3 separate regions of the Homo sapiens genome follow, and regions 2 and 3 are each linked to region 1. The links come from fine-mapping of genetic effects on gene expression. A gene starts in region 1. Each other region holds a variant in brackets. All regions are shown on one strand. Distances are between the middles of the regions.

The links. PIP is the estimated chance that this variant, and not a neighbour inherited with it, causes the effect.
Region 2: its variant is fine-mapped to the expression of SLC35C1 in whole blood (TOPMed, PIP 0.92).
Region 3: its variant is fine-mapped to the expression of SLC35C1 in whole blood (TOPMed, PIP 0.98).

Annotation. Positions count from the first base shown.
Region 1 is chr11:45,802,776-45,807,011 of GRCh38, forward strand. SLC35C1 (solute carrier family 35 member C1) reads left to right here and starts at 2,374. Exons shown (of 2, transcript NM_018389.5): 1 at 2,374-3,561. The coding sequence starts at 3,027. RefSeq lists an enhancer at 1,169-1,328 and silencers at 1,499-1,668, 2,399-2,628.
Region 2 is chr11:45,751,272-45,755,507 of GRCh38, forward strand. It overlaps LINC02690 (long intergenic non-protein coding RNA 2690), which reads right to left and starts at 337. Exons shown (of 2, transcript NR_183774.1): 1 at 240-337. The variant C/T (reference allele first, on the strand shown) is at 1,945.
Region 3 is chr11:45,734,943-45,739,178 of GRCh38, forward strand. No RefSeq gene overlaps it. Among named protein-coding and RNA genes, the nearest start is that of LINC02690, 15 kb to the right of the region's middle. The variant G/A (reference allele first, on the strand shown) is at 1,834.

The sequences.
Region 1 (4,236 bases):
TTGTTTGTCATGGTGAACTCTCGGGCATAAGAGAGGAGAGACTGGAACAGATACGAATTGCTCTTAATGAACCAAAACCCACAGCTTCAAAGGAAAATCCCAGAGGTAGACTCTCCAGGTGGGGTTGAGGAGACCAGCTCAGTCCCTCTTGAGTCTTTCTTTCCCCAAAGGGATATTTTAGTTCCAAAAGTGACAAGGTAACCAGATGGTATCCTCCAGGTGGAGAACAGCCCACAACTAGGAAGCAGAGTCTCATTCCTTGAGGAGGAAGAGGGGAGTGCTAGTACCCGGGGCTAGTGGAAGAGGGTAGGGTGTGGGCCCGGCTCGTTGTGGGGCAGCTGTTTACTTCACTGCAGCCTGCAGCCCTCCCATTTCCCTACAGCCCACCCAGGGCTGCGCTCAGCTCCAGTGAAGGTTTGTGCAGTTAGGATCTGAGAGTTTAAGCGTACTATATAGGTTTTACCTTTTTATTCTGGAAATTTGCAAATGTACACAAAAGTAAGGAAACTCTTATAATGGGTCCTTGTGTATCTACGCCTAGCTACAACTATCAATGGCTTATCTTATTTAATCTATCAACCTTTTAAAAAAAATCTTTTTGAGGTCAGGCACGGTGGCTCACGCTTGTAATCCCAGCACTTTGGGAGGCCGAGGCCGGCGGATCACCTGAGGTCAGGAGTTAGAGAACAGCCTGGCCAACACGGCGAAACCCGGTCTCTACTAAAAATACAAAAAATAACCGGGCGTGGTGGTGGACGCCTGTAATTCCAGCTATTCGGGAGGCTGAGGCAGGAGAATCGCTTGAACCCGGGAGACGGAGGTTGCAGTGAGCTGAAATAGCACCACTGCACTCCAGCCTGGGCGACGGAGCGAGACTCCGTCCCAAAAAGAATAAATAAATAAAAATAAAAAATATTTTTGGTAAGTATTCTTAGTATTTTAAAACAAATCCCAGCCATGACATCATCTTACCCGTTAATTAAATGGCACTAATTAAATGGTGCTTGAAATATTACAAACATCTATGTTCGACCATACCACCTAGAGTTCTGGGCAAGAAGGTTGGGACCCACAGGTCAAGCCTAGCCCCTTAGTTTTACCATGAAGATAACTCAGGCCGTCGGAGAAAGTGGCCTGCCCAACGCAGGTGCTAGAGCGCGAACCAAGAGAAGTCGATCCTCCTGGTCTCCCCGGCTGCCTGGTGAGTGGCAGACCACAGGCTAGACTTCCCAGGCCCCGGCCCTGGAAGGGGCGGGGAACCCTCCCCCTCACTGCCAGCTGGAAGAATCCGAGCGGTCCCCGCACGCACTTCTGGAAGTGCAAGCCGGTAGCGCGGCGGGCCAGGGATACAGCCAAGTCCCGGGACGTGCCAGCTGCGGTAACTGAAGCCGGGTCCCGGGCGGGCGGGGGTACCAGGGACAGGAGTAGCCTTGGAAAGAGGAGAGGGCCTCCTCCCACGACCGTCCGGATCACCGCCTCTCCGCCGGCACCCCCGGGGCCCATGCCGCGAACAGGCCGGCGAGGCTGGCAAGGTGCCCGGGCCCGGGGCGGAAAGCAGGAAGTCGATCCCGCGGGCGCGGCCCAGGGTGCGGCGCTGCAGATGCAGCACGGGGTCGCGGGGCGGGCGCCCAGTGCACCGGAGGAGGTGAGCGCCAGGTCGCCTTCGCGGCCCGGGGACACAGGCAGGGACGCGGGAGCTGATGCGGCTGGACCGGCCGGGGAAACAGTATTTTCTGGAAGGGGTAAGAGATGCTGTCTTGAGCCTTTGGAATCTCGGATCCGGGCCGCCCAGAGGACCTCGACAGGAGCACAGGGAGGACAAACTGAAGTCCGAGAGAGGCGGCGTGGCCTCCGGCCTCGGGGAGCGCTGCCGGGGGTCTCGGGCTTGGGAGAGGGCCTGGGGGCGGTGAAAATGGGGGGAAAGGAGGGGACCACAACATTGTTATGGAAGAGTGAGCTCGGATTGGCAGAGGGACGCGGGGCTGCAACGCGAGTCTCCGGAGGTGGAGGGGTCCAGGCTGATGTAGCGCCGCCCGGGTCCTGGGTCGGGGTTCCGGGAAGTGGACCTGCGAGCCAAGCCTAGCCAAGTCGGGGGACGGAGGCTCCGGGGCGGACGGAGCTGAGGGTGGGCAGGCGAGGTTGATGGAGCCCTTCCAGGAAGCAGGGCGAGGCTCAAGCACCCAGAAAAACCTGTGGCTGCCGAGGTCCCCCGCCAGCAGCGGGCAGCGGAGCGCAGGGGCGGGGCTGGGGACTGGCGAACTCCGCCTCTCTGGGGCTGTCGCTTTAAGGGCAAGGCGGGGCGTGCGGGCCCTTTAAGGCCACGTGGGGGCGTGTCAGGAAGTGAGTCCAGGGCCCGCCTCCCGGGGAGTCGGCCTCGGATGTCCGGAGGCTCCTGGGCTGAGCCGGCGACAGAGCCCGGGAAGGCAGCGAGACGTGGGCGCCGGCCCAGCCCCCTCCCGCGTCCTTCAGCCCCAAGCCCCGAGCCCCTCTGACCCTTCCGCAGCCCTCCCTCCAGCCGCGCCCGGCCTCCGGCAGCTCCCTGTACGCCTCCCTCCCCCTGCCCGCCCCTCCCTCCCACAGCCGCCCATGACGCCCTCTCGGCACCTCTTCCCACTCTGCCACGCGTCCTTTTCCTGCACCTTCGCCCCGCGTACCTACTCCTGCCCCGCCCTGCCATTCCTCTCCCCTCCCTTCTCTCTGCGACCCCTCCCTGTTAGGCCCCAGCCTCTTCTCCCCTCACAGGTCTTCTCTGTCCTGGCCTCACCGCCTTATCCTATTCCTCTCCCTTGCCCTGTGTCTTGTCTCAGAGCCCCCTCGGGGTGGGAGTAGGTTGTGGAGCAGCACAACTGGGCTCACCCCAAAGCAGAACTTCTCAATCCATGAGGACAATGGGGAGGCCTTTAGGCCAGCCCACATGTGACAATGGAGGGCTGCGGCTTCCTTGCGGAGAGCACAAGTGAGCTCACTGCCCTGGACTCCAGGGAATCAGAGTTCTGGCCGCGGGGTGACCCAGCTCCTCTGCTACCATGAATAGGGCCCCTCTGAAGCGGTCCAGGATCCTGCACATGGCGCTGACCGGGGCCTCAGACCCCTCTGCAGAGGCAGAGGCCAACGGGGAGAAGCCCTTTCTGCTGCGGGCATTGCAGATCGCGCTGGTGGTCTCCCTCTACTGGGTCACCTCCATCTCCATGGTGTTCCTTAATAAGTACCTGCTGGACAGCCCCTCCCTGCGGCTGGACACCCCCATCTTCGTCACCTTCTACCAGTGCCTGGTGACCACGCTGCTGTGCAAAGGCCTCAGCGCTCTGGCCGCCTGCTGCCCTGGTGCCGTGGACTTCCCCAGCTTGCGCCTGGACCTCAGGGTGGCCCGCAGCGTCCTGCCCCTGTCGGTGGTCTTCATCGGCATGATCACCTTCAATAACCTCTGCCTCAAGTACGTCGGTGTGGCCTTCTACAATGTGGGCCGCTCACTCACCACCGTCTTCAACGTGCTGCTCTCCTACCTGCTGCTCAAGCAGACCACCTCCTTCTATGCCCTGCTCACCTGCGGTATCATCATCGGTGAGTGGCAGCTGGGGCCACGGGGGATAGAGTGGTCATGGGGACTGAAGCAGTGAAGAACAACTCTTCTAGGCATCCTAGGACTTCATCTGTCCCAGCTCCTTTGGTGCAGCAGTCATAGGAGAAAGAGCCTGGGGGCACAGAGAGAGCAAGTAACTTACTAAAGGTCACCCAGCAAGTTAGGAGCCCAGCCGGGGCAAGAACAATAGTAATAATAATAGTAACAACAGCAGCAAAAGCAACTGACATTTGTTGAGTGATTAAAATGTGCCAGGCACATGGATCTTAGCCATATTAACTCAGCTAATCTTCATAACAAGATGGGATTATAATCCACATTTTACAGAGGGAAAAACCAAGGCACAGAGAAGTTAACTAACTTGTCCAAGATCACCCAGCTAATAAGTGGCAGAGCTGGGATCTGAACTCAAGCAATCTGGCTTCACAGTTCACATGCCCGACCACTGTACTTTATTGTTTCTCAAGAGCTCAGGTGTCCTGATTTCCCAGCCAGTGCTCTTAGTAGAGGACAATACGTCTTTTAATAAATATACCATCACTCTCTGCCAGCTCAGGATAGCGCCTGAGACAGTAGCAAGCAATATGCTTTGAGAGGCCTCAGCTGTCTTCCTGGACTTGACCCTCAGAAAATAATAATTATTGATGGGGAAATTA
Region 2 (4,236 bases), 52 kb before region 1:
CCAAAACCACCCCTGAACCTCAGAGGAACTTGCTTCCCCCTCTGGTCCCCAGGCAACACTGATTCTCCCAAGCTAGGTCGGAGCAGGGAACCTCACTCTTCCTCCACCTGAGCCCTCTCCCCTTCCCAGTGGCCATGCTGTTTTCTGCCGTCACCCTCCCCAGTAATGGCCTCGCTCACATCTCCTCTCAAGAGGGTCCCAAGGTACATGGGTCAAGTGAAATCAGGGTTGCCCCAGACCTAAGAACAGTGGTGCCCCCAGAGGGAAGCTGGAGCCCTGTGGCAGAGGTGGAGGAAGAGGAGAGGACCAATCAGTTGTTATGGCAACCAGGGCTCCCAAGATGGAGGGAAGGGAAAAGGCGGCCCTGCTCATCAGTTGCCATGGCAACCCAGAGCCTCCAGGCCAGCTTTGAAAACAAAAACCACACACACCCCACTTAACAAAGAAAGTACCCAGGACTCCTCGGTATGCTCCGCAATCCAGAGCGCCAAACGGAACAGGTCAAGGTCTGGTCTCACGATTGACTTTGTAGACTTTTTTTAGGGGCAGAAGGGCTGCTTTTTTTCTGAGAAAATAGAGAGCCAGGGCTTGATAACCCGTAGGGTCACTCAGCAAGCATTTACTGAGCCTACTACATGCCAGGGCCACAGCGACAAATTAAGATCCAGACCCACTTTCAAAGGAGGAGAACAGATATTTCCACATCAGTACGAGACTTGCTGGAAGTCTTCCCTGACGACGGTTTGGCAGTGTTCATTAAAAATTTTAAGTGGATGTTCTCTGTGACCCAGCAATCCCATTTCTAAGACGCTGCCTGCAGAAATATTTGAATCTGAAGGTGATCTTTGCAGCATTATTTACAGCAGTAGATAATGGAAAACAACCTAAATGTCCCGTAATGGAGGCCAGTTACATCAATTTTGGTACATGCATACACGTTGAAAATGCAAAGGCGTACGGGCGGAAGAACACATAAGGAACCATTAGCAGCCATTACCCAGGAGTCGCAGGACTGACCAATAGGGTTAGAGAAGGGGGGCGTTTCACTTTACTTCTCAACCATTTGGAGATGTTACAAGAGTGCGCTTCCCTCCCGCCCCCAAGAGAGACGGGCTCTTGCTTTGTCACCCAAACTGGAGTGCAGTGGCACATCACGGCTCACTGCAGCCTTGACCTTCCAGGCTCAAGTAATCCTCCCCTCAGCCTCCTGAGTTCAGCCTCCTGAGTAGCTGGGACTATAGGTGTGTGCCACCTGCCCAGTTAATTTTTTGTATTTGTTTAGTTTTTTTGTTTTTGGGGGTTTTTTTTTCCTTTTTTTGAAATGAAGTATTACTCTGTCATCCAAGCTGGGGTGCAGTGGCACTATCTCGGCTCACTGCAACCCCCGCCTTTCGGGTTCAAGCAATTCTTGTGCCTCAGCCTCCTGAGTAGCTGGGATTACAGGTACCCGCCACCACGCCTGGCTAATTTTTGTATTTTTTAGTAGAGACAGGGTATCGCCATGTTGGCCAGGCTGGTCTTGAACTCCCAACCTCAGGTGATCCACCCGCCTGGGCCTCCCAAAGTGTTTTTGTATTTTTTGTAGAGACGGATTATCGCTATGTTGCCAGGGCTAGTCTTGAACTCCTAGCTTCAAGCGATCCTCCGCCTTGGCCTCCCGAAGTGCTGAGATTACAGGAGTGATCTACCGCGCCTGGTTTACTTTTATAACTTAAGGAAAATGCTAAATGTTTGGGATGATTGGTCATACAATGGGATTTATAGTGATGAAAATCAAGTACGTTAACTGGTTATGATACAATGCAAAAAAAAAAAAAAAAAAAAAACCAGCACAGGCCAGGCGCGGTGGCTCATACCTGTAATCCCGGCACTTTGGAAGGTCAAGGCGGGTGAATCACTTGAGGTCAGGATTTCGAGACCAGCCTGGCCAACATGGTGAAAACC[C/T]GTCTCTACTAAAAATACAAAAATTAGCTGGGCATGGTGGCCAGTGCCTGTAATCCCAGCTACTCGGGAGGCTGAGGCAGGAGAATCTCTCACACTCAGGAGATGGAGGTTGCAGTGAGCCTTGATTGTGCCACTGTACTCCAGCCTAGATGACAGAGCAAGACTGTGTCTCAAAAAAAAAAAAAAAAAAAAGCACAAAGGCACTTACAATAGGAGCATCAAGGGAGAAGAGGAGAAGTAAGATGGGTGGGAAGAAGTTAGGTCTTGCAGGTTGCAGAAAATGTCATCATCAGGAGAAGGAGGAAAGGCATTTTAGCTGAAGAAATGGCAAAAGCAAAGGCTAGGAAGAGTAAAACTTCCAGTACTCTAGAAAATCCCAAGTGGTCTCTGTGGCAGAGGTGAAGAGATGTGACACAGACCTTACACAGGAGCAGCAGGAAGCCATCCCAAGTTTGAAAGTAGGGAAAGGACATGAGGAGAGCAGAACCTACAAAGATTTCTCCAGGCAGACGTGAAGGAGAAGTACTAGAGTCCAGGAGACACCTTAGGAAGCTACTGTAATCACACAGGAGTGACACGAGGAGGACCCCACAGGAGGGTGGACGGAGGGGAGAGGGAATTACAAGAAGTATTTCATATGTAAATGGCAGGAGTTTATGATGTTTCTCAATCCATAGACTTACTTTCTAGAGCTAGATGAGGTTCCTCAGCTTACAGATGGGGAAACCGAGGCACAGCTAGGGGAAGTGAGGGTTTCCAGGACAATAGGTTTATGACTTGAAGTTTTCTCTGGGCCTCCTGGGAGAGGAGGCTCAATCCTTCCAAGATCTGACCTTTTTTAACTCTTAATTCAGACAATTCCCAACTGAGGGGGATGGGCAAAGGTGAGGCTGTGGCCCAAGAAACCCCTGCAGGAAGAAAAGAGGGAGGAAGAGGACGACCCCCTTTGGTATCTGGATGCTGAGAGTCCCACTCTGAGATCCCAGCCTCCTTAAAGAGAGCACTCTTGGTCCCAGACTCGAGCATGGCTGTCCTGCAGGGAGCTTGGGGCAGTGCTCAGGCCCTGGGAGGGGTGTCTGGTGGTGGGCAAGGTGCCACCACGAGCTGGTCCAGGAAGTGCCTCTGTCACGTGCGTGCCTCCCCAGTGTCCTGTCCCACACCTGGCACCATGGCAGCACTGGGACAAGCACAGCGCTGGACTCAGGAGTCAAGAGCCCTGGAATCTACTGCCTTTCTGTCCTGCCACTCAGCAAGCTGGCCTTGAGCTTGCCACTAGCACTCCCATGTGATAAGGCCCATGAAGGCATGAACTCACACTGAGGAATGCTATGCTAAACACGGCCCTCTTCCTGGAGAGGAAAATGGAAAAGCCCCAGGCGGGGGAGTATTATCACAAAACTGTCAGCATGTCTACATTTATCAGATTAGTTAAAAGAAGAGACAGGGCTGATCGTAATCATTCCCGAAATATGTGCAACTATTCAGCTTGCAACTACTCCCACACACAGGCCTCTCATTTGACTTTCAAAAATTAAAACAAAAACACTCAGGACAGGTGCTGCTATTCCATTTTACAGGAAGCAGGTTCTGAGAGATTCAGACTCAATCCATATGTATTAAGTGTCCATCTCACGCCAGCGCCTGGACAGAGGTACCAGCAGCTGCTAGAATACAGTTAGATCCGTTCGCACTGGTCCAAAAAGATACTCCATGAGAACAGGGTTACATGTCAAACAAGCTTAGGAAATACTCCAGACTTTATCCCTCCCGCTTCTGATGAATCGCTGTGCCTATTAAATTACTCAAGGCCCTGCCTGGGAAGTCCTGCTTAGCTCTGTTCAACATCTCTCCCAAGTACATGGCCATGGAACCGCCTTTTACACACAACTTCTTAACAGCCTGCAGAACTTGGGTTTTGTGGAACACATTCTTGCAAATGCTGACCTGAGCAGTAGAAACAGAGCACTGAAGATGGGATTTCAGACAATCAGATGAAGAATACATCCTGGGGCAGCATCTTGCCTCTGTCTATCAACTCACAGCAGAAGCATCTGCCTTTTCCTGGGCTTCGGAATACAGCGAGCTGATGGGGCCAAGTTCTGTGGGACTGTTAGTTGTAGTCTCAGCTGGCAAGTCAAGGACCAAGCCTCGGCTGCATCAGAGCTTGTCTGTGGCTCTGGACCCGTCGTTTTCAGGTGGGCGCAGGGTCAGGCATCTGGAACAGCCAAGACACAGATGTTCCAGCCACTCTTGGATCCCCGCCTGGGCTCCTGCCTTCCCTAATTCCAATAT
Region 3 (4,236 bases), 68 kb before region 1:
CAGCTAACTGTTGTCACCCATCATCAGCATCAGAGATGATAAAGGGAAGTGAGCTATCTGGGGTGGGAGTGGAGGGAGAGAGAAGGAAGCTAAATTGTGTAGGAAACATCCCAAGTTAATTCTGTTTATCTGTTTAAGAAGAAACTATTTCAAATGTATATGTATTTTTTTAATTTTAAAAAAGTGTCTTATGACTTTTCAGAGTTTACAGAGTTAATGGTTCTATATTTCAGCCTTGAGTTCATTTTGTTTTTTCTTCCCCCTTGAGATAATTAGCCATAAGCGTACCTGAGTACATTTTTCATGTCAAGAAGACAATGGCTTCAAAGGAAGGGAAAGGGCAGCCCCACAGGAGGCCCAGAAAAGAAGGCCAGGTGAAAAAAGCAAAGCCTCCCAGGGAAACATTCACATTTCCTGAATGATCTGTCATCAAAAATGCATGTGCATGCAGAGGGGCAACCAACAGAGTCAGGGCAAACGCAGCCAGGCTGGCCCCTGCTCCCAACTGTGCCCGGAGGACTTTGAAACACACCCATACCCAGGACAAAAGCAACCCTCCTTCCCGAAATCACTGCCACCTATCTGGCAAAACCACAAGTCCAAAGGAAAATCTTGGATTTGGCTTTTTTTTCAGGCTCCTAAATTTAAGCAACATTAATTTTTTAAAGGCCTGTCCTGCTCTCTATACTGCAATGGAAGATTCAGGGGAGCAGCATTTCATGGTAAGATTAGAACCAGGCCATTCTGTTCTTAATCCTTACCTTGGAGTTGATGTGAAAAGGTGTTGGCTTCACACTTGGATAGTCCTGGGACTGGGCCCAGTATTCCCTTGTTGTATGTTCTGGAGCATTGCTGTGAGAAGCCATTATTTTTTGCTTATGTCCCTGGGGCTTTATTTACTTCACCTCGTGTTTAATCTTCCCAGCAACCCTATGAGGGAAGTATATTACCTCATTTCAAGGGTAAGGAGATTAGTCTCAAAAAGAAACACACACTCCAAATAACAGATGGGATTCAAACCTTGGCCTGCCCAATTCCAGAGATCTGCTCTAATATGGTTTTGCTGTGTCCCTACCCAAATCTCATCTTGAATTCCCACTTGTTGTGGGAGTGACACGGTGGGAAGTAACTGAATCATGGGGACAGGTCTTTCCCAGGCTATTCTGATGATAGTGAATAAGTATCATGAGATCTGATGGTTTTTAAAAGGGGAGTTTCCCTGCACAAGCTCTTCTTCTCTTGTCTGCTGCCATGTGAGATGTGACTTTCACCTTTCACCACAATTGTGAGGCTTCCCCAGCCACGTGGAACTGTAAGTCCATTAAACCTCTTTCTTTTGTAAATTGCTCAGTCTCGCATATGTCTTTATCAGCAGTGTGAAAACGGACTAACAAATACTCTTCCCTGTACACCGCTTCTATCAGTTACATACTGCCATAATAATTCTGTGAAATAAATAATCACAAAACCTAGGTGGTATGGAATAGTAAGGCTTTATTGATCACAGGTCTGGGATGGTTGGCTAGGTGGTTGTGCTGATCATGGCTGGGCTCACTAACATGCTTAGGGCTTGGTTGCCATCGACTGACCTAGGCTGGCCTCAACTGGGACAGCTGGGATGACTCAGCTCTGCTCCAAGTGTCTCTAATCCTAGCCCAGGCATGTTCTCATGGCAATGGCACAGGTACAAGAGAGAAGGCAAACATGATTAGTTGCACAAGTATTTCTCAAGCTTTTGCTTACATCACATTTGCTGTTGTTATCCTGTTGGCCAGAGCAAGTTATATTGCTGAGCCCAGAATCAGAAAAGGACATTGCAGATGAATGGCAAAA[G/A]GTGTGCGTACAGGGAAGGGTAGGGATTTGGAACCAGTTTTGCAATCTACCACATGATCTTGGGTAAGTTACAGTCCCCTCTCAGAGCCTCTGCTCCTGCATTTTTTAATAGGATGGTATCTACTTCATAGGGCAGCTGAGATCATTAAATAAGACAAGCTGTGTGAAACACTAGCAAATTGAGAACTACCCTTCCTACTGATGTATTTCAAGTGTACAAGCCTGGGGGTGTTTGTACACATTAACAGAGATACATGAAAACCTCCATGTCTATTTCCAGAGTCCACAGAATTCTACCCAAGTCTCAGAGGTGAGATGGTCCAATCACTGAGATGATAAACAAGAATTGTAGAAAGAGAATAAATCAAGGAAGAAAACAATAAGTAAATGATGTAATTAAAGTTACTGTTGAATAACCTATCAAGGAGAGAATGAGTCAGTGGCAAGTTGAAGCGATGAATCAGGCACAATGTCATGTTTCTAGAATTCTTGTCTATTTCAAGAAAGCCTGATGTCCCAGTTAAAAGAGCACCTTGAGCCTGTAGCAACAACATCTGGAAGGAAACACTCTTGTAATTTTAATTCCTCCTGGGTGCCACCACTAACGACAGGAGCAGCACCCGGGTAGCACAGTTAGGCACTCCATAAAATCTCTCGTGGGAGGAGCTGAAAACTACAACATTACCTCAAATGTATTCAAGGGGATTTTATTTTTTATTTTTATTTTTGCTGGATTTATTTATTTATTTTTTTTTTTAATTTATTTTTTTATTGATAATTCTTGGGTGTTTCTCACAGAGGGGGATTTGGCAGGGTCATGGGACAATAGTGGAGGGAAGGTCAGCAGATAAACAAGTGAACAAAGGTCTCTGGTTTTCCTAGGCAGAGGACCCTGCGGCCTTCCGCAGTGTTTGTGTCCCTGATTACTTGAGATTAGGGATTGGTGATGACTCTTAACGAGCATGCTGCCTTCAAGCATCTGTTTAACAAAGCACATCTTGCACCGCCCTTAATCCATTTAACCCTGAGTGGACACAGCACATGTTTCAGAGAGCACAGGGTTGGGGGTAAGGTCACAGATCAACAGGAACCCAAGGCAGAGGAATTTTTCTTAGTGCAGAACAAAATGAAAAGTCTCCCATGTCTACTTCTTTCTACACAGACACGGCAACCATCCGATTTCTCAATCTTTTCCCCACCTTTCCCGCCTTTCTATTCCACAAAGCCGCCATTGTCATCCTGGCCCGTTCTCAATGAGCTGTTGGGCACACCTCCCAGACGGGGTGGTGGCCGGGCAGAGGGGCTCCTCACTTCCCAGTAGGGGCGGCCGGGCAGAGGCGCCCCTCACCTCCCGGACGGGGCGGCTGGCCGGGCAGGGGGGCTGACCCCCCCCACCTCCCTCCCGGACGGGGCGGCTGGCCGGGCGGGGGGCTGACCCCCCAACCTCCCTCCCGGACGGGGCGGCTGGCCGGGCAGAGGGGCTCCTCACTTCCCAGTAGGGGCGGCCGGGCAGAGGCGCCCCTCACCTCCCGGACGGGGCGGCTGGCCGGGTGCGGGGGCTGACCCCCACCACCTCCCTCCCGGACGGGGCGGCTGGCCGGGCGGGGGGCTGACACCCCCACCTCTCTCCCGGGCGGGGCGGCTGGCCGGGCAGAGGGGCTCCTCACTTCCCAGTAGGGGCGGCCGGGCAGAGGCGCCCCTCACCTCCCGGACGGGGCGGCTGGCCGGGCGGGGGGCTGACCCCCCCACCTCCCTCCCGGACGGCACGGCTGGCCAGGCGGGGGGCTGACCCCCCCACCTCCCTCCCGGATGGGGCGGCTGGCCGGGCGGGAGGCTGACCCCCCCCCCACCTCCCTGCCGGACGGGGTGGCTGCCGGGCGGAGACGCTCCTCACTTCCCAGATGGGGTGGCTGCCGGGCGGAGAGGCTCCTCCCTTCTCAGACGGGGCAGCTGCCGGGCGGAGGGGCTCCTCACTTCTCAGACGGGGTGGTTGCCAGACAGAGGGTCTCCTCACTTCTCAGACGGGGCGGCCGGGCAGAGACGCTCCTCACCTCCCAGACGGGGTCTCGGCCGGGCAGAGGCGCTCCTCACATCCCAGATGGGGCAGCGGGGCAGAGGCGCTCCCCACATCTCAGACGATGGGCGGCCGGGCAGAGACGCTCCTCACTTCCTAGATGTGATGGCGGCTGGGAAGAGGCGCTCCTCACTTCCTAGATGGGATGGCGGCCGGGCGGAGACGCTCCTCACTTTCCAGACTGGGCAGCCAGGCAGAGGGGCTCCTCACATCCCAGACGATGGGCGGCCAGGCAGAAACACTCCTCACTTCCCAGACGGGGTGGCAGCCGGGCAGAGGCTGCAATCTCGGCACTTTGGGAGGCCAAGGCAGGCGGCTGCTCCTTGCCC